Homo sapiens: one gene and its partners. The protein of the gene in region 2 interacts with the protein of the main gene of each other region in a biochemical or structural test. Each region holds a gene or a part of one and is shown on either strand. Other genes may lie near its edges. The genes, in order: WDR48, PHLPP1 and USP46.

What was found.
Region 1: the proteins of PHLPP1 (region 2) and WDR48 form a complex in vitro, tested with the Homo sapiens proteins (one study listed by BioGRID).
Region 3: the proteins of PHLPP1 (region 2) and USP46 form a complex in vitro, tested with the Homo sapiens proteins (one study listed by BioGRID).

What each region holds. Positions count from the first base shown.
Region 1 is NC_000003.12:39,089,974-39,097,085, reverse strand, and holds the end of WDR48 (WD repeat-containing protein 48), read right to left. Parts: intron 5,462-7,112; coding exon 5,385-5,461; intron 3,213-5,384; coding exon 3,020-3,212; coding exon of another isoform or gene 2,834-3,019; exon of another isoform or gene 2,439-2,833; coding exon 2,343-2,438; 3' UTR 422-2,342; downstream 1-421. UniProt on the Homo sapiens protein: Regulator of deubiquitinating complexes, which acts as a strong activator of USP1, USP12 and USP46. Enhances the USP1-mediated deubiquitination of FANCD2; USP1 being almost inactive by itself.
Region 2 is NC_000018.10:62,893,534-62,900,645, forward strand, and holds part of PHLPP1 (PH domain leucine-rich repeat-containing protein phosphatase 1), read left to right. Parts: intron 1-1,477; coding exon 1,478-1,624; intron 1,625-2,247; coding exon 2,248-2,478; intron 2,479-7,112. UniProt on the Homo sapiens protein: Protein phosphatase involved in regulation of Akt and PKC signaling.
Region 3 is NC_000004.12:52,621,228-52,628,339, forward strand, and holds part of USP46 (ubiquitin carboxyl-terminal hydrolase 46), read right to left. Parts: intron 6,937-7,112; coding exon 6,723-6,936; intron 5,021-6,722; coding exon 4,791-5,020; intron 1-4,790. UniProt on the Homo sapiens protein: Deubiquitinating enzyme that plays a role in behavior, possibly by regulating GABA action. May act by mediating the deubiquitination of GAD1/GAD67.

The DNA of each region.
Region 1 (7,112 bases), on a different chromosome or scaffold from region 2:
CTATATGGAGGGAGGGTCCCAAATTAGCAAACCCTTCATTTAAAGCAAACCCTTGTCAAGCCTACCAGAGCAGCTGATACGTGTGCATAACAGTGAGGCATTGTGTCCTGGATCGTCTGGGAGCCCAGTGTCAAGTCTGCTGGAATGCAGGAAGTAGAACAGAATCGCCACAGGACTGTTCTGGGGCCAGCTTCCCTTAACTCTGTAGCCTGGCAGTCTGACCCAAAGTTGCCCTCACCCAAAGGTTCTGGCTCTTCCCTCCCTCACTTTTACTTTCCCTTCCCCCATAAGTTGGAGGATAAAATGGGTATCAATGCTAATATTTCCAGGGAGAACATGAAACCAGAGGTTTCTTTCTTTCTCTGTAATCTGCTATGAAAGAAAATAACAAATGAAAATAAATGTGTACTACACTTTGAAATATTTTAACTAAAGCCTTTATTCTATACAACTGTGAAATACAGATTTTTACCCTTTTGGCATTGCAGACTGTCGAATTTTCTGGAAACTGTATTACGGTTTGACTGGAGGGGAAAGAAATACAATCATGCTGGGGGTCAGATCTATGACAGGAGGGGAATGCAGCCACCCAAGGCTTAGCACACAGGGCAAAATGACCCAGCAAAACCCATTTCTTTGCTCAAAGGCCCCTCGGGCAAACACAACTGAGGGCTGGTAAATAATTTTTTTTTTCTTTGCCATTAATTCACAACTATTGCTAAAAAATGTGCACCAAAAGCACACTGTTGTATCCAACAGATAGAAAGGACTTTTAAAAAAAAAGAAGCTGGTTGCTCTCTGAGGAAGGGAGAAAGACCATTTCAACTTATTAGAAATGTGGCCACGTCTTTGCTCACTTCTTCAAAGTGCAGGTGGCAATGGCCTGTCCAGTTTCCAAAAGAAGCTGACTAGCAGTGAGGGAACCCTGTCTCTGCAGTTGTGCGATCAGAGTATCTTAAATAGTAAGGTATGGCCTTAGGCCTATCAGCTGCCCCCAGCCGAACCTGTGAAGATGTAGAAAAGAAAAAACGTTCCCTGCCTCCCTCCCTAGTCCCTGCTATGGTGGAGGCAGGCCACACACAAGCTAGGGAGGCAACTGGACTGGAATCAACTGCCCTCTGAAGGCACTTGTGCTTCTGGCTTCATACAGGAGGCTTGTCTTACAGTTTTATGGGGGTGGACCACTGATTTACTCTGAATACAAATGACCTTGGGGAGAATCCAAAGTATTTTCTGCCAAAAGTTGAAGTGTTTATCCCCAATAAGTTACACTCTATACAAGATCCAAATGATTCTATGAAAGTGTTAGATTGTTAGAACAGTGAAAAGAAGATCTGGATACAGGTACAACAAAAACCTGCATATAAAACTTTGGAAAAACAAATATGTATACTTCCAGGATATGAATATCAAATTAACTCACTATGATCTCCCTTTATTCTGACACCATAAATTTTAGGTAACATTTGAATGAAACTGAAATTTCATCATGGTCTTAAATTTTGATGGTGTCATGCTGCTCATCCAGAGCAAGAACCTGTGGTCTCAGCTCGCTTTGTGTAAATAAAACTGGACACAGTGGAGGAAGGAGTGAAACTGCTGCACCTCCCTGGGGTTGCCACAAAGCCAGGACATCATGGGAGGTGCAGCATCGCTAGGCATGGGCTGCACAAACTCCGGCCCAACAGTCCAAGTGCTATGATCCAGCACCTGGAATTTCAACAGATCTTCCTACAAGAACACATCTGAGATGCAATATTAACAACAAGCCCAACATTAATCTTTTATTATGAAATGGGCTGGTTCTCAAATTGTGCAACAGCAAATTCCCATTAAAAATAACTGTCTTAAACGGTGAAAACAATTTGATTACTTTATATGACAAACTTGGAAAAAGCCTTCATATCTACTGCATGAATGGAATGTACTGTTTTAGAAAAGCTACAGAGTGTGTGGGCTTAAAGTTGAAACAGAGACAGTTGTGGCCCGACTGAGGTGTCTCTAACAAGTGTTAATGGGTAGATAAGGTCCTTTGAAACAAAAGGAGGAAGCAAAGTCTGCACTGGCCTGTTGTCAGTCTTCTGTACATCTTGAAAGACATAGTCTGCTTGGGGCTCTTCTGCTCTTGCACTCTGCTTCCCTGGGGACAGCTTAATCTACACATGGAGACTGGTTTCTATATTACATCTCGATTAGTCACTTCAATTGAAAGATAATCTCGGTCCATACCAATCAGCCGTTAGAAGTCTTGCTCCCGTTGGGGATCAGTGGGCTTCCTAGGACTACTCTTGGGGCCATAGAGGAAGGTCGTAAATGAATATCCAGGAGCATTAGCCCAGCCTTCACGTGGACTTCTGACGGTAATGGAGGGTGAGGTCTCCACCGCTCTTCCATATGAAGTGTTTCACTGTTCGAAGGTCCATATTTGGATCCAAAACCTGAATAGCCAAAATTAAATTTAAAAATTTCAAAGTCTCTAATATCTAAAACCTTATCATTAACTCAGGGACTCTCATCAGGTGATCCAGCTTGCTCACTCCTCCCCTATGCCTGGTATCCAATTCTTGCTGTCACGGCTTCCATGCATGCGGGAATGAAATTGAGCTTAGTGAGATGTACATCTTTTGTGACTATGCCAGAAACACCAGGCCATCTTTCAGCCATTCCTCTGAGGATACGTTTTGAGTGCATCTTGATTTAAAAAACAGTTCTGCCATTTCTCCGCACACCTTCACTCTAAATCATAAACATGGCACATGCTTTTTGCAAATCAAGAAGACCATGTGTCTTTTTTCTTGTCAGAAAAAAAAGCTACCAGCACATCCACATTTGTCTATGTATCCCTTCTCTGAAAATCTCCCCAGCAGTAAAGAGGAGCTTTAGGGTGGGCTTTAGGTAGGAGAGGCCCAGGGCTCCTTAGAGCCCCTCTAAAAGTAGAAGCCCCCCACCCAAAGGCATGTAACTCTTTATGAGCACCAGCACTGGAAAAATTGGGGCTGTAGTCCTCAAGTCCACTTACCTGGTCCTGGCACAAAAGTTCAATTTTCTCCTCTGCCAACACAGCAATATCTTCTTCTTTTTCCTGTTCTCCTGGTTTTTCATTATTAGAAGAGCTAGTGGTTTGAGACTCATTATCCAAGTTGATAATTTTTTCATAAACATGTTCCATAACTTTTCGGACTTGGAGCATGTCACTAGCAGAGAGTCTATCTCTGTAAAAAAGCAATGGCATATTGTGACATCAGGGAAATCACTAGATATTATTTATTCCATATTATTTTTCTTTGATGCAAACATTTTAAAGATGAAAAATAAACCAATAAATGTTTTTAGTCATTACCTTAATCCATTTTTAGAGCTGCGGAAAGATTTTCTACAGTGTCCTTCTAAGACACAGTTTATGTACAACTAAATGAGATTAATATGTGTTCTTAAAACTTGACATATACAGGCCAGGTGTGGTGGCTCACGCCTATAATCTCAGCACTTTGGGAGGCCAAGGCAGGTGGATCACTTCAGATCAGGAGTTCAAGACCAGCCTGGCTAACCAACATGGTGAAATCCCGTCTCTACTAAAATACAAAAAATTAGCTGGGCATGGTGGTGCACGCCTGTAATTCCAGCTACTCAGGATGCAGAGGCTGCAGTGAGCCAAGATACGCCACTGCACTCTAGCCTGGGCGACAGAGTGAGACTCCATCTCAGAAAAACAAACAAAAACATTTACATATACATACATAGTAGCCTTCTGGGTTTTATTCCCTTGAATACTTTCCCAGAACCTGGGCAAACTAAATAATTCTGGAAAGGCAGGCAGCTCCCAGTGCTTACCAGGGTCCGACACTCTTAGTGCTCAATTTTCCCTGGGCTCTCCTCCCCACTGCCATGCCTTCAGCTAGCACCTGTGAGCAGACAATGCCTGAGTCTAGACCTTGAGTCTCAACCTTCTCTTCTAAACCACAAACCCAACAGCTGGTTGGGTATCTTCAGTTGGATGTCCTACAGGCACCTCAAACTCTGTATGTCCCAAACTAGACTCATCAACACCCTACTTCTGTATCTCTGATAACAGTCAATAACTATTATACCAAAAAACTAAGGCCTACGCTCTGAAAATCATTTGAACTTCAGTTGTTAAATCTATCTGAACTGATGTCTAGGACTCACTTTAAAATAATTGTGTGTGTGTGTGTGTGTGTGTGTGTGTGTAGACAGAGATGGGTGGGAGGGCAGGTAGAGGTATAGGTGAAGCAAAATGTTTAGCAAGGTATTGATAATTACTGAAGCTATCTGATGGGACGATGGGGGCTCACTAGCTTCTTTCTATATAAGTTTGGAAATCTCTGTAATAAAAAGGTTTAAAAATTTTTTTTATTTTATTTGCTAGAATACATATTGTTCATAGTTTAGCATCCCATTACTACACTACTAAAATTCTTCTCTTGGGTCTCCCTGGACCATATCCCACATTGGCTCAAAAGTTTCTGGTGTTTAGTCACTGCACGCTCTATGGCTTGGCATTCAAATCCAACATCAACAAAACCTTTAACTGCTTTTCCAATTTACCTCCTAATATCCCCCTGCTGCCCCTCCATCCCATGCTGCAGGTGCATGGGTCCTCACGTTACTTTCCACTATCTTATGCATGCTCCCACTTCCACATCCCTGATCACACTGTGTCCTGGACTTGGAATATCTATCTTTTGAAGTTCTACCAATCATTACATGTCCAACTCAAATTCCACGTCCTTCAAGAAGCCTTACTGGGAAGCTCCAGCCAAAAGCTCATTTATTTCTCTCACTCTCATTATTCCTTAAGTATCCATAAAAACAACTATTATATACAGGTTGGGTCCTAAACTGTGAATTAAGGCAACAGACAAAATGTGTGTTTTATTTATCATTTTTTTCTTAGAGACAGGGTCTCTCTCTGTTGCCCAAGCTGGAGTGCAGTAGCATGATCTTTGCTCACTGCAGCCTCAAACTTCTGATGATCCTCCTGCCTTAGCCTCCTGGCTAGCTTGGACTACAAGCGTGTGCTCCCATGCCCAGCTAATTTTTTTACTTAAATCTTTTGTAGAGACAGGAGTCTCACTACGTTGCTCAGGCTGGTCTCAAACTCCTGGCCTCAATTAATCCTCCCACCTCACCCTCCCAAAGTGTTGGGATTATGGGCGTGAGCCACTGTACCTGGCCTTATTTATTTTTGAACACCTGTAATCGGCCAAAGTTGGTACCTGGTAAGTGGTTTAATTGTATAAACTTTGAATATTATAAAATCAGCCTTAGATCTGGTATTTGCTTCCTTTGCTATAAAAGCAATCATAAGGAAAAGGAATTCTCTCTAGTAGTTAATTAGATCAAGAAACCATATATTTACTTACTTTTTTAAGGTTTTTGCTCCTGAAGATGCATGAGGTTGGAGGTAGAAAGGAATTTTGTTGAATTTGGGCATATTTTTCTGAAACAGTAAAAGTTAAAAAGGTATAACAGTTTCTATTAGTTGATAAATGAAAATAATGTTAATAGGAAAACATGACTTGCAAGTAATAATTATCTTACAATTAAAAGTGACTTTCTATGAAATGTATAGTAAGCTATCAAATTACCTAAGTCAGCCTTCGAGAAAATTCATCAGAAAAATATATGTAACATTAGAGGTAATATGAAATTGTAGCATGGCTCTTCTTAGATAACAGTACAAGGTATTAAAGGGAAACAAACTTTAATTTTTTAAGCCATACAAACCAGAATCTCAATTCTACATTAAAATATTGGAGTTGATACCTAAAGGCCCAAACAAAAACTTAAGTGTCTTGAGAGAAACCCACAGCATTCACCTTTGAGCAAAGCCACACATTCTGTGCTGGTGAGGCCCATCATCCAACTGAAAAGGCCAATCAAAGTCCTCCCATTTTCTTTCCCTCTGACATCACAGTGAGGTCTGAGGTGTTAAGAAAGAGTGGAAACTTCAGCCAAGAACCCAGATGTCTACCATGAAGTAAACCACATTCTTAGATGAAGGATAAAATTACGTGGTCATCTTTTCTCAGGGTATTAATCCCCTCCAAGCCTTCATGTCACATCCTGTCTGGATGTCTCCTCTCAAGAATAAGCCACAGGGCTAAAGTCAGCAATGCGTCCCAGGTGAGTTTCACACTCAAAGAAATTAGTGGCTTATGGGGTGCTCAGGCATAGAGAAGACCATGGAATATCCATCAGGTGTCACATTGGCTTTAAGTCTTAGAGGTATATCCGGGACAGAAAATAAAGTTTCTGAAGGTTCTAAAGATTAAATTCCTTTTCATATGGCTTTAGAAAGATACAAAATAGACCAACAGTACATAAGAGAGTCTAGAAGCAGACCCATGTGTATACAGAAATTTAGTACATGATAAACATAGCATCCCAGATAAGTAGAAAAAGGACAGATTTTCAATAAATTGTGCTAGCACACTAGCTGTCCCTTTGGAAAAAGTCTAAATCCTACTTCACACCAAACAGAAGACTAAATTCTAATAGATTAGAGAGCTAGACATAATTATCATAAAAGAACTAGAAGAGAATATAGGAGAATATTTTTGTTACTTTGGAGTAGGAAATACCTAAACAAGACATGAAACTAAGAGCCATCAAGGATCAATTTGATTATATAAAAAGTAAAACTTTTCACCTGGCAAAAGGAACAAAGTGAAAATTTAATTGAGACACAGATAATAGTTAAAGGGTTAATATTCAATATAAACCACCACCCCACAAATCAGTAAGAAAAATGACCCAATAGAAAAATGGGTAAAGAATACAAACAGGTAATTCACAGAAGAAAAACAAATGGCCAATATGAAAAGATGCTTAACCTCACTATTAATTTGTTTTTAATCCACATAAAAATAATGAGATACTATTTGCCTATTTTTTAGCAAAGATTAGAAGTATCCAGTGTTGGTGCAGGTGTGGGGAAATGGGCACTCATACACTGTTGGTGAGAATGTAGACTACTACAGCCTTTGTGGAGGGCAATTTGGCAGTATCTATCAAAATTTAAAATGTGCATAACCTTGGATCCAGCAATTCCACTTCTAGGAATTTATCCTAAAAAGCACACAAAGATA
Region 2 (7,112 bases):
AATAGGTACATGGTCAGCTTTCCATTTAGAATCAACTTTTATTTAACTATTTAGAATACAGCTTAACATATACTGATTGGGTTGAATTGTGTTTATTTTTAGAGTGTGTGTGTCTCTTCTAGGCAGAGTGCATACTGTCTAGGATTAGACGTGGGCGGTTTTTAAAGGAGTTAGCATAACGCAGTCACTAATATGATTCTTATCTTACTTAGAGATGGTGTAGAGGTCGTTGATAGGCCAAATGTAAGAGTGCACAGAGAAGTAAAAAATTAAAGATAGCTTCTTTAATTGCTTAAGTTGCTTGGGCAACTGTGAAAATGAAAGGGCTATTAACAAAAATAGAGGAAAAAGAAGTGCCAGTTTGGAATAAAGATGGTAAGTTCAGTTTGGGGCTGGAAATGTGGGGTAGCTCAGGAGAGGAGCCAGCATGTGATAGGACTGAGATAATTGCTCACATAGGAGTCAAAACATTTCCAAGGAAAACAGTGTAGAGAGAGCATGAAACTGCTAAAAAACCTATCTATGAAGATTACTTCAATTTGGGTTGGGGAAGAAAAGATGAAGAAAAGGAAGGTAATACATGAGAAGAGGGCTTAAGAGAGCTAAGAAGAAGGGTGTGTGGTCAGCAGCATCAATCAAGTACTGTATTGAGATCGACGAATGATAATTGGTTCTTTTTTGAGATAGAGTGTCACTCTGTCGCCCAGGCTACATTCCAGGAGTGCAATCTCAGCTCACTGCAACCTCCACCTCCCAGGTTCAAGTGATTCTTGTGCCTCAGCCTCCTGAGTAGCTGGGATTACAGGGGTGCACCACCAGGCCCGGCTAATTTTTTGTGTTTTTGGTAGAGATGGGGTTTCACCATGTTGGCCAGGCTGGTCCCAAACTTCTGGCCTCAAGTGATCCACTCATCTCGGCTTCTCAAAGTGCTAGGATTACAGGCCTGAGCCACCAGGCCCAGCTGATAATTGGTTCTTAAATTTGGAACTGCGAAGTCCTGGTTACCTTAGAGAGAGTATTGTTTTGATAAGTTTTTATTATTTCAGTTTTGGGTTTGAGAAACATGAAACAGGAGTTTTTGACTTGTCTGAAACAGCACCGACTCCAGAAGGGCTAACGCCAGCTCTGCCTGGTCCCTTTCCTCCTTCACTGGGGCCATTTACACTGTGTTAATTAAGCTAATTGAGATACTGCTAGAAAGCTTTCTCCAGCAGAATTCACTTCCTGAAATATTCAACCTTATTTTAGAGGGAAAAGTTTGTTTTTAGATAGAATGTTTACATTTTAGGTAAAACACTGGCCTTAGAGTCAGCAGATGTGCATTCCAGTGCTGCTGCTCCTTAACCTCTCTGGGGCCCCCATTTCCTCTTTAGTTGAATTTGGGAGTTGGGCTAGATTATCTCTTAGGCTATGCTAAAATTATGATGTTAATGACATTTGTCTCTTTTTTCCCTTTTGTTTTGCTTTATTGTAATAGGTTCACCAAGTTGAAGAGTCTTAACCTTTCCAATAATCATTTAGGGGACTTCCCACTGGCAGTCTGCAGTATTCCAACCCTGGCAGAGCTGAACGTGTCCTGCAATGCCCTGCGATCAGTCCCGGCAGCCGTTGGAGTGATGCACAAGTGTGTACTTCAAACCCCACTGGCGGGTATATCCAGAAGCCCCAGGGAAGCTGCATTGGGGGTGTGGCACATGAGATTAGTTAACTTGTTATGTTGCTCATGTAAGTCTTGGCCCCAAATCAAGAGATCAGGGACTATGTAGTCCGTATGGAGTTCATATGTTGGATTTGTACTCCTTACAGTCTTGTAAAAAAATTAAATATTCTTGTTTAGAACTGAAGATCCCTACAGATGAGTATGTCTAAACATGGAATGTGGGTTATGTTCTCATTTTTCTGAGTTATATTGAATTTTAAGACTTAGAAATTAATTTTAAGAAATAACAAGGAAAGCCCAAAGGATATCTGAATCAATTCATATCACAGTTAGCTCACATTGCTCCCATTTAAGCCTATTCAAATTGGGAAAACTAGTCATGATTTTCATTTTCAATAAAAGATTAAGATGCTTATCTCTGATTATTTCTCTTTGGTCCATTATTGCCTCAGGCCCTGCCCTTAGGCATTTTGCGAAGAATAATACATTTTCTGGTAATACGGTCTACACTTATGGAACTTGTATGTTGATAATAAAGATGTAAAATTTATATGTTCTCTTTGTAATTCTTATGTTTTCTCTAATAGCTTACAGACATTTTTGTTGGATGGAAACTTTCTCCAATCCCTTCCTGCTGAGTTGGAGAACATGAAGCAGCTTAGTTATCTGGGTCTTTCTTTCAATGAATTTACTGACATTCCCGAAGTATTGGAGAAATTGACTGCTGTGGATAAACTTTGTATGTCTGGAAACTGTGTGGAGACCCTTAGGCTACAGGCTTTAAGAAAAATGCCTCACATTAAACATGTGGATCTAAGGTAACCATTTTTGAGAAATAGATCTCATTTGAGTGGCTGGCTTATATTGCAGGGGTGGGGAGTAGGTTATTAACCAAGGCAAACAAGCTGGGTAATTGAATGTGGGCCCGTTTTTCTATTTCTGCCTAGAGGGAAGAATTATGATTAATAGTAGGGTTTGCTATTACTGGAAACTCTCACTGATGTATGTCTTGAAGGTCTTTGTTTTGCAGATTGGAACCCAGTTGAGTGAGAGAGCTGTTTTTTGTTGTTGTTGTTGGTTTTTGTTTTTTTTGTTGTTCTTGTTTTTTTTTTTTTTGAGTCAAAGTCTCGCTCTGTCGCCCAGGCTGGAGTGCGGTGGCCTGATCTCGGCTTACTGCAAGCTCCGCCTGCCAGGTTCATGCCATTCTCCTGTCTCAGCCTCCCTAGTAGCTGGGACTACAGGCACCCACCACCATGCCTGGCTAATTTTTTTGTATTTTTAGTAGAGACGAAGTTTCACTGTGTTAGTAGCCAGGATGGTCTCGATCTCCTGACCTCGTGATCCACCCGCCTCGGCCTCCCAAAGTGCTGGGATTACAGGCATGAGCCACCATGCCCGTCCTGTTTTTTGTTGTTGTTTTTAAAGAGATGGGGCCTTGCTCTCTTGCCCGGCCTGGAGTGTAATGATGTGCTCAGAGCTCACTGCAGCCTCAAACTCCTGGGCTCAGGTGATCTTCCTGCCTCAGCCTCCCAAGTACTCAGGCATGTTCAGTTTCATCAGTGTAAAGGAGCATCACCTTTTGCTCCCCTTTCTTCTCCTTTCATATGGTTCAGCCTAGGAAACCTATACATTCCAGTCCCATAAAGAATTGCTTGGCTTCACCTTTCCTCAGAATAAAGGAATCAGACCTGTCCCTCCTAGGGAAGTATTAGCAATTTGCAGATATAAAATTCTTAATTTGGAGGTAAAAGTGGTTATAATTTATCTGATTTTTGAGAATTTCTTGGAATGTGACAAGATAAGGAACTCTAAACACTTTGTTAACTTGCTTTCTAAATTGTTAACATTATTTGCCTCTTGAGTTCCTTGTATTTAGAAAACCCTCATATTCCAGAATTTGAGCCCTATTTTATTCATCCACCAGTGGTAGAACTTCATTAGAGCCAAGGACAATGGCTTGCACTGACCTCAGGTAGTAAGAATGAGATGATTTCTGAGTTACCTGGTACATGTAGGGAGACATCATTTTTCTTGATCTGAATTAGCTTACACATAAGATCAATCTGAAATGTCTGGAAGTAATAAATCTTAGTAAGAGCTTTATAAATTCTTCAGATTCATAGTTCTAACTTGAGTTTTTAGATGACATCACCTACAGGATATTTAAATACCAGAATAGACATTAGACACTCTGTAAATGTTGCATGACCATGAGTAACTGCTTCCTTCCTGGCTCCTGAGCTGAGGAGGGGAAAATCAGATAGGTTTGTTCTAATTCTGCCTTAATACTTTATTTGTTGTTTATTGTTTTTGTTTTTGCTTCTGTTTTCAGAGATAGAGTATCTGTCTGTCGCCCAGGCTGGAGTGCAGTGGCATGATCTCAGCTCACTGCAACCTCCACCTCCTGGGTTCAAGAGATTCTCCTCCCTCAACCTCCCGAGTAGCTGGGATTACAAGTGCCCGCCACCACACCTGGCTAGTTTTTGTATTTTTACTGAAGACAGGGGTTCACCATATTGGCCAGACTGGTCTTGAACTCCTGACCTCAAGTGATCCACCTGCCTCGACCTCTCAAAGTGCTGGAATTACAGACATGAGCCACCACACCCAGCCTAATTCTGCCTTAATACTTAAAATCAAAGCTAGTGGAGTAATTTAAGGAGAGTCTTGCTTAGTTTCTCTAAGTAAAGGGCCACTTTTATTCAATTTTTTTTCCCTTTAAATGGAAATGGTACATCAGATTGATTATTTTTTTCTTTGCATTGATGTTGTTTGAGTTTGATATTATTTCTTCTGTGGCATCATTAATAATTCCTCCTCCCTTCTCCTCTTTCTCCTCTTTGTACAAAGTGTGGCTGTTACTTCTTGGTCAGTTCTCTTTCTATCCATGTTTTCTGCCTTGGGGGTTGCATATACTCTCAGGCTTCATTTTCACCTTTCATCTTGATGTTAATCATTCCCCAGTCTTTCCCTATTCCTTCTTTGACTTCTTGAGACCAGTTCCACTTAAGCTGCCAGCTGGATAACTTCTTGGTTTTCCCTATTCACACATTTAACCAAATACATGTAAAACAGAGTTCAGTGTCTTTCTTACTCAACCAATTCTTTCTCATGGATTTCTTTTTTTGCTGATAGCAACACCACCTCATTGGTTTTCCAGACACACAACTCTTGGCTGATTCTGTCAGCTCTTCTTTTACATGAGTTTCTGTCTTTTATCCCTTCCTTTTTCTTCTCACTGTGACTGTTGTCTTCTACCTGAGCCATTTGCTTCCATTGTGCAGCCTCCCAAGCAAGCACAATTTTGCTCAGAGCCTGCGGTTCTCTAGTTCAAGGTACTCAAGCCCTCATATTTGGTTTCAGCCCACTGGTATGTGAGTCATTTGAGGATGAGGCTCTATCTCTGAGCTGCTCATGTGTGGGCCTCCAACCTGTGGTGGCAAGTTAACTATTTGCTACTTTTCCACAATGAGATGTGTACAGAAGTTAAGACTAATATTTTAGTAACATATAATGATTTGACATTGCCACAATATCCAACTGCATTACGAGTTGATTCTTGCTGTACAGGGAATCAACTAGTTTTTTTTATTTTGTTTTATTTATTATTATTATTATTATTTTTTGAGACGGAATTTCTTGTTGCCCAGACTGGAGTGCAGTGGTGTGATCTCGGCTCACTGCAACCTCCGCTTCCCAGATTTAAGCAATTTTCCTGCCTCAGCCTCCCAAGTAACTGGGATTACAGGCGCCCATCACCATGACCGGCTAATTTTTTGTATTTTTAGTAGAGACAGGGTTTCACCATGTTGGCCAGGTTGGTCTCAAACTCCTGACCTCAAGTGATCCAACTGCTTCGGCCTCCCAAAGTGCTGGGATTACAGCCATGAGCCACTGCGCCTGGCCTCAACTAATTTAGATGTTGTCAAACTTGCACAGTGAGTTGCATGTGATGTGAGCTGTGTATGGGTTGTGTACTATACATCAGTCTGTCATGAATTACAACTTTAGAAAATAGGTCTCCTTCACCATAGATAATTTAAGCACTGTTTTTATTTATCCTTCAACCCCAGTGTGAGTCCTTAGTAGGTCCAGTCCTTGGTTAATTGCCTCACCCACCTTTGTAGCACAGACCCTTGCATCCCCTGCCCTCCTGTAGAAGCTATTCAGGCAGGCACCAAACTTGCCCTGTGCTCTTCTGTTTGATGCAGAGGCTGTTCCATTGCTTCCTCGCACCTGCTTTTCTTCTCCCATGTACACCTGTTCCATTCTGCCTACTCTTGGGAATCAGATGATTTGCTTCCTTTTCCATAGCCTCTTTTTTAAAAAACCATTCTCTACATTTTATACATCATTCGTGGCACTTACCACATACCTGTAGTTCCTGTATTTTATAAAACATATTTGACTCTCCTTACTAAATTGTGAAATCTGTTGAAAAACACCTTGTTTTATTCATCTCTTACTGCAACAAAGCCATAGGTCATCATCGTTGTCACCATCACCATAGCCCTTCTACAGGCTGGAGTGCAGCGGTACAAGCGCAGGTCATTAGAGCCTTGATCTCCTGGACTTAAGTGATCCCCCTCCCTCAGCCTCCTGTGTAGCTGGGATGAAAAGTACACACTACCACACTTGGCTAATTTTTAAATTTTTTAGAGAGATGGGACCGCAGTTTGTTGCCTAGGCTGGCTCAAACTCTTGGGCTCAAGTTGTTCTCCTGCCTTAGCCTCCCCAAGTGCTGAGAATTACAGGCATGAGTAACCACGCCTGGCCAGAAGGGAATTTTCATCATATTTTGCCTTTTAAAAAGTTTGTCTGGGCCAGGTGCAGTGGCTCCTGCCTGTAATCTCAGCACTTTGGGAGGCCGAGGCAGGTGGATCACCTGAGGTCAGGAGTTCAAGACCAGCCTGGCCAACATGGCAAAACCCCGCCTCTACTAAAAATGCAAAAATTAGCTGGCTGTGGTGGCATGTTCCTGTAGTCCCAACTACTCGGTAGGCTAAGGCAGGAGACTTGTTTGAACCCAGGAGGCGGAGGTTGCAGTGGGCCAAGATCGCACCACTGCACTCCAACCTGGGTGACAGAGCAAGACTTTGCCTTAAAATAATAAATAAATAAATAAATAAATAAATAAATAAATAAATAAATAAATAAAAAGTTTGTCCTAGTTACATCATGGTGACTGTGGTCAACAATATGTTGTAGTTGTTTGTATTCTTGTTTTTTCTTTTTCTTTCTTTTTTTTTTTTTTTTTTTTTTTTTTTTGAGACAGGGTCTCACTTTGTTACCCAAGCTGGAATGCAATCACAGCTTGTTACCCAAGCTGTGGTGCAATCACAGTTCACTGCAGCCTCAAACTCCTGGGTTCGAGTGATCTTCCTGCCCCAGCCTCTCAAATAGCTGGGAGTATAGGCACGTGCCACCATGGCTGGCTAATTTTTTATTTTTT
Region 3 (7,112 bases), on a different chromosome or scaffold from region 2:
AGCCAATCTCAGCAATAAATATAGTGGCAAAAAAATCCTAAAAATCGTAGATCTCACAATCCAACAATGTATATAAAAGATAAAGCCCCAATTCAGTTTATTACAAAAATACAAAGTGGGGTCAACATTAGAAACTCTATTAATGTTACTGCACACTGTGGCTCACGTATGTAATCCCAGCACTTTGTGAGGCTGAGGTGGGCAGATCACCTGAGGTCAGGTGTTCAAGACCAGCCTGACCAACTTGGTAAAACCTCATCTCTACTAAAAATACAAAAATTAGCCGGGCGTGGTGGTGCACACCTGTAATCCAGGCTACTCCAGAGGCTGAGACAGGAGAATTGCTTGAACCTGGGACGCAGAGGTTGCAGTGAGCCAAGATCGTGTTACTACACTCCAGCCTGGGTAACAGAGCAAGAGTCTGTCTCACACACATAAAAAAAAAAAAACCTCTACTAATGTAACTAACTTACCACCACTTTAGAAACAATTTGGCACTACCTAGGAAATCTGAAGATGCACATGCCCTATGGCCAGCAATTCTGCTCCCAAAAGGATACCCCAGAGAGAATTTTGCCCATGGGGACCAGGAGATAGTTTGTAGCAGCACTGTCTACAAGCCAAAAACTAGACACACCATAGAAGAACAGAAAAACAAACTGCAGTATATTCCTACAATGGTATACTACAAAATGATAACAATGAATGAACCATGCTACAAGAAATGGCCAATTCTCAAAAATATTAATATAACCTTTAATGATAATAGCAAGTTTAGAAGAATACATGTATGTGATTTCATCTATATAAAAGCCATAAACATGCAGAACTAAGTAAATGTCTAGAAATACACATGCGTATGTATGTACAACTACAAAGAAAAGATAGTATTGACACACAAAATGGAAGACAGTGATCACCTCCTGGGCAAAGGATGAGACTGAGAGGAAAATTAAATTGCAAAGAAGTACACAGTGGGTTTCAAAGTTATTGTTAATGTTCCATTTTTTTATAGGTGTTGGGCATATGGATTTTTTAAACTATTCTTTAAAATGTATATGTGGCCTATATATAAACATACGTTATACACACACACATATACTTCTTTAAAAAAATGATATATTTCCTAATTTAAAAAATAATTTCAAGACTTACCAGTCTAGACCAGGCTTTACTATAAATCATTCCTCAATTCTACCTCATGAAATAAATCAAAATCTTTTCCCATAGCATATAGTTTTCTTCTTCAAGAAACATGACAAACATTTTCATTTATTTATTCACTCAACTATTTATTAATTATTATATGTCAAATACTCCTTGGGCACCAGAGAGAGAAGCAAGACCGACACTATCCCTGTCCTCATCAATCTTACAGTTTAGTAAGAAAGATAGATGCTGCATACGAAATACATATAGATAAATATATAAATACAACAAAGTGCTATCACAGAAAATTAGACTATTGTAAGATGATACAAGGTGACTTCATTAAGTTGGAAGTTCAGAGAAGGCCTCTCTCGGGTTTTAACACAAGTTGAAACCTGAAGAGGATTTAGTCAAGCAACAGGGGCAGGTGGTGTGCATTCCAGACAGAAAGTGGCATGTGCAAAGGACCTGAAGCAGGAAGGGATTTGAAAGGCTTGAGAAGCTACACTGAAGCTAGAGTAAGAAACAGAATGGCAAAGATGACCCTGCAGAGACAGACAGAGCCAGCTTACATAAGAATTTGTAGGCAGTGGTATTTTCAGTGAGACTGCAGGCCACTACTGTACTTTAGGTAGGAGAGTAACATGGAGGAAGGCCAGAGGAAAAAACAGAGAATCCAGTAGGAGTTACTACAGTAGTTTAGTTGAGACTGCCAGCCAAGAGTTGATGGGTGCCTGAGCCAGGATGGGAGTAGCAGGGAGGAAGAAAAGTATCTTAAGGGAGATAGAGCAGACAGGGAGTGGCAACAGAATAGATTTAAGAGGTGAGGTAAGGATGGTGAGAAGGAGTACACCCTTATTAAATGAAAAAGACTGAAAATCTGTCAATTGTCATATTTACAATATAGCCCTAATTTTGATGTTTAAACGTATACAAAGTTATTCTGAAAATAAACTGAATATCAAAAGGAATAAAAAACTATAATGGATTAAAACACATGAAATATGTTAAAATTCATGAGTTCATCACAAAATGGTAACACAAAAGACAGAGGGCGATAAAGTATATTAAAGGCTCTAACTGTTGGAAAAGTGGAAACAAAATGAAATAAGTCAAGGATGCATGTTGTAATCTCTAGAGCAACCTCTAAATGAATTTGGAAATGTAATACATTAGATGCCAAAAAAATGAAAAATATTTCATTGATCCAAAAGAAGAGAGAAAAATGAATATAAAATAGATTAATTAAATAAAAACAAAAAGTAGGGGCCAGGTGCAGTGGCTCACGCCTGTAATCCCAGCACTTTGGGAGCCCAAAGCAGGCAGATTACTTGAGGTCAGGAGTTCGAAACCAGCCTGGCCAACATGGTGAAATCCCATCTCTACTAAAAATACAAGAGTTAGCCAGGCGTGGTGGTGGGCGCCTGTAATCCCAGCTCCTGCTTAGGCAGGAGAATCACTTGAACCCGGGAGGCAGAGGTTGGAGCGAGCTGAGATCAAGCCACTGTACTCCAGCCTAGGCAGCAGAGCGAGATTCTGTTTCAAAAAAAATTAAAAAAATAAAATAAAAATAAAAACAAAGAGTAGGGTGGTAGAAACATACTGCCATTTTACCATACATGTTAAAGTACACCACAAGAATGTTTCCAGAATGTGGGAAATGCTATAGGACAAACACCCTGATTTCTTTAAAAAATAAATTGCAAGGTAAAAAGGGTGTGTTGGGGTTGGGGGGTTGGCGGGGAGGATTAGGATTGGCCAAAGTGTTAACAATCACTGATCCTGAATAATACACACATGGGAAATACCATACTACTGCCTCTACTTTTGTATTCATTTGAATTTTACTGGAATGTAAAGTAGAAAGGAACAGAGGGAAAATGGGAGGGAGAGAAGAAGAGAAAGCAATACAGAGACAGTGGCAGGGAGGGAAGATCTCTGGATACTTATTGGCATATTTATGTGCAGAAAGTGTTTTGACAGGATATATTTTTAAATGTTCAAGTGGTTATCTCTGGGCTAATGTGATCACAAATTTTAGAACGTTACAAATTCACCATCTCTGGGTGGGAAGATTACCGGTAACTTTTAGTCTCTTTTTGTTTAGCTGTGTTTTCTCATTGCTTCTACAATGGGTAAAACAGAATGCTTGACTCAAAAATTGTTTAAAAGCATGGAAGAAAGACTGCCAAAACCTAAAAACTTCTCCCTTTACATAGATGTTGATGTGTAAGTCTACATTTCTTAAACATTTCTGGGTCACAGCTCGCAATGGACTGAATGTCTGTGTCCTCCCAAAATTCATACTTTGAAACCCTCATCTCTAATAGGATGGTATTTGGAGATGGGCCTCTGGGAGGCAAACAGGTCATGAGGGTGGAGCCCTCATGATAAGATTTGTACCCTTATAAAAGGAGACCCGAGAGAGCTTGCTTTCTCTATCTCCACCAAGTGAGGACACAGCCAGAAGACAGCTGTCTGCAAGGCAGAAAGAAGGTCCTCACCAAGAACCTGACCCTGCTAGCACCTTCATCTGGGACTTTCAGCCTCCAGAACTGTGAGAAATGAATTTCTGTTGTTTAAGCAACTCATGAGGGATTGCGTTGTAGCAGACCAGACTAAGACACAGGCTCTTTGCAAAATCTGACAAAAGCTACTACCTCTCTTTCCAGAAAAATGCACAATCTTATAGAATTTTCCATACAATGTCAGGAAACTCTGAGATCCTTAATGAACCCATAGACTTTCTATGCTGTCAGTAGTAGTTATAATAAAAAATAATACCTGACATTTATTGCCTACTTGCCATGTGCCAAGCATGGCTCTAGGTGTCAACTCATTTAATCCTCCCACCAACCCTCCAAGATGGGCATTCTCATCATCCCTATTTTATAGATGAAGAAAGTGAGGACAGAGAAGATTAATAATTTGCACAGGTTCCACTAGCTAACAAGCAGAAAAGCCAGCATACAAACTTGGGCAGCCTGGCTCCAGAGCTCAGCTCTTAAGCAGCAAAATATGAGGCCACCCACAGAGTTGAAGTTAAACATGCCAAGAAAATATGACATCCTGAATCATGCTCTGGAGAACATGTCTTCAAATTCAATTAACATTATGTACCTACCATGTGTCAGACCCATCCAAACACATAAGCTCATCCAACCCTCAAAACAGTGCTGTAAGTAACTCGCCCCAAATACCCAGTTAACTGCTGTAAAAACAGGAGTCTAGCCTGTCTTCTGACTTCAAGTTCAACATACCACAGCTGACTGCCTCTAAACTGGGGTGATGGTCCTGTTCTACATCACACAAGACCTCCCCATGACCAAAATCTTTGCAAGGTAACTGGTTGACATCCAATTCAATAGATTAAATCTGTAGACCCCAAAATTTCCCCATGGTGTAAAGCAATTCAGCATTTGAGGAGATTTTCCTTTATTATTCAGCTTTGGCCTGCTGAGACATCCTGGATGGATATGTGCTTCCAAAAGTTTGTACTTGAGTTTCATATGCATAAATAGGATTATTTACATACACTGCAAATAACTGCTAAATGCTATAATACGACATTGCAATCACATGCAACATAGCGTACATAAATATGAACATGCGAGCTACATAAGAGCTCCCCTAGTACTTACAGTTTCACAGTTCAAGCATCGAGTTTCATTGGTAAGCGTTCCCTGAAAAATCTCATGGACCCAGGTGAGTTCTGGTTTATTATTTTCCGCAGGTTCGTTCATGTTGCCATTTTTTAATTTTCCATTTTGTTTTTCCTGTTTCTTCTCCTCCTGAAGGATGTCCGCAATAGTGTTTAGCAAATAATTTAAAAATTCATGAGCATCCTGCTGCATGTAGTTATCAAAGAGATCTGGAAAGGAGAAGGTGGTTATTTCAGTCTCTGGTTCTTGAAAAGCAAATGGATGTAATTAGTGTTACATGCCATACTTAAATATTTTTTTTTTGAGATGGAGTCTCGCTGTGTCGCCAGGCTAGAGCGTAGTGGCATGATCTCAGTTCACTGCAACCTCTGCCTCCCAGGTTCAAGCAATTCTCCTGCCTCAGCCTCTTGAGTAGCTGGACTACAGGTGCATGCCACCACACCCAGCTAGCTAATTTTTGTATTTTTAGTAGAGACCAGGTTCACCATGTTGGCCAGGATGGTCTCAATCTCTTGACCTTGTGATTTGCCCACCCTGGCCTCCCAAAGTGCCGGGATTACAGACGTGAGCCACCGCGCCTGGCCCATACTTCAACTTTTATATTGAAAGGATGGACAGGTATGGAATATAAATATACTCATCTCTACCAGGCAGCTTCAATGAGTAAGTTTCCAAAGAGCTTTTTTAATTCATTTCCATTTTCTGCCATGCACCAAGAACAAAATTTCCCGTATCTCCCTAAAGTCATCACATTTATATAAAACTACCAAAAGTTCTATTTGTTCTACAAAGGAACAGAAGTTATCAGATAAGTTCCCTGATAAAATATCAATTTTTAATATGATGTAACTACCAATGATCAATTAATTATTCATTGGGTAATTTATTCAGAGCAACTGGGGTGTCCTCCCAAAGATCATATTAAACCCTGGACCAGCCTGGAAGCAGCTTAGATGAAACACAGAAGGGAGATGAGGGTATGTGTGAGCAAGCATCTATCTGATAGTGTTCCGAAACCAAATACAAATGATTCCAGAAGCCTAGTGCTGCTCCCTGCCATAAGGACAAACAATCAGAGATGAATGCAGCTGTGAACCTTCATTATTAATCACGTTCACAACTCGACAGAGTGCTCTGCTTCCTTCTCCACTGAAATTAGTTTTAATCTGGTATGTATAAACTGTAACTTCAAAATACAGCAATCAAATTAAAAGAGACTTTATAAAACAAATACCTGATTAACCATGCACGTCTGATGAAGTAAGGCTGAATCTAAGATAAATAGTAATTGCCATAACAAATATCTTTATAGTCATAAAAACTGCCAATACAAAACTTCTGGAATACACACCTAGTTTCTACTACCAATCCCCCAGAAGAAGAAGATAGAAAAACCAGAAAAATCAGGACTTTTAAAAACCATATAAAGCAATCAATTTGATATCCTTCAATTACCTCAGGCAAATGAAAATCAGAGGTATTGTATTTAAAACAGCAGAGGCTCTGATTAGATAACAGGCACTTATTTTAATCACCTATGACAAGTTTATAAGCCAGTACTATTTTATTTAATTATTGCATCAACCAATTTAGGCCAATGAGTATCCCACTCCGAAGGCTGCCTTGGACACTATTCTCTCTTACAATGATCCTGCCCAGAATGGAGCAAATAAAATGGTCATTCTAAATTGGAATAATAAATGTGCGTTTTTAAGCATGTTTCTAACCCAGTTTTGTTTTAAGTTTACTGGGCAGAGAAGAAATGTTGTTTCTTAAAAAATGACACCGAGTAGTTAACCATGCTTATTTTCCCTTTTCAAAAAAATGCCAGCTCTTCCTTTTGAGGAGATACAGAACCATCAATTCTCCTTATTTCAGAGGCTTAAATACATTATACTGCATACTACTCACCATTCTCTTTTCTCAGCCTTGAAATGAACTTCTTTGGTGGGATGACGCCAACCTTCTTCTTCTGTGTGGCAATGCTGTGGAAAAGGTCCGCCAGGCACGTCAGCAAGTTTTCCTTCTTCTTTTGCTGGGCCTTGTATGCCAACACATTCTCCCGGAATGGACGGCAGAAGTACAATGCCTGAAGCACGGAGTTACAGTAGCATGTGTTTCCAAACTGCCAAGGGACAAGAGGGATGGCTCAAGTCATTGCCTGGGGATGAGCCACCTCTGGAATAAGTGGTGAGGGTGAGAAGGTCCCTGCTCCGTGAACTGGCCTGGATGTCCCTGTATTGGAGTCCAGCTCACCATATTAGAAAACTAGTTAACTACTCTAAACACCAGTGACCATCT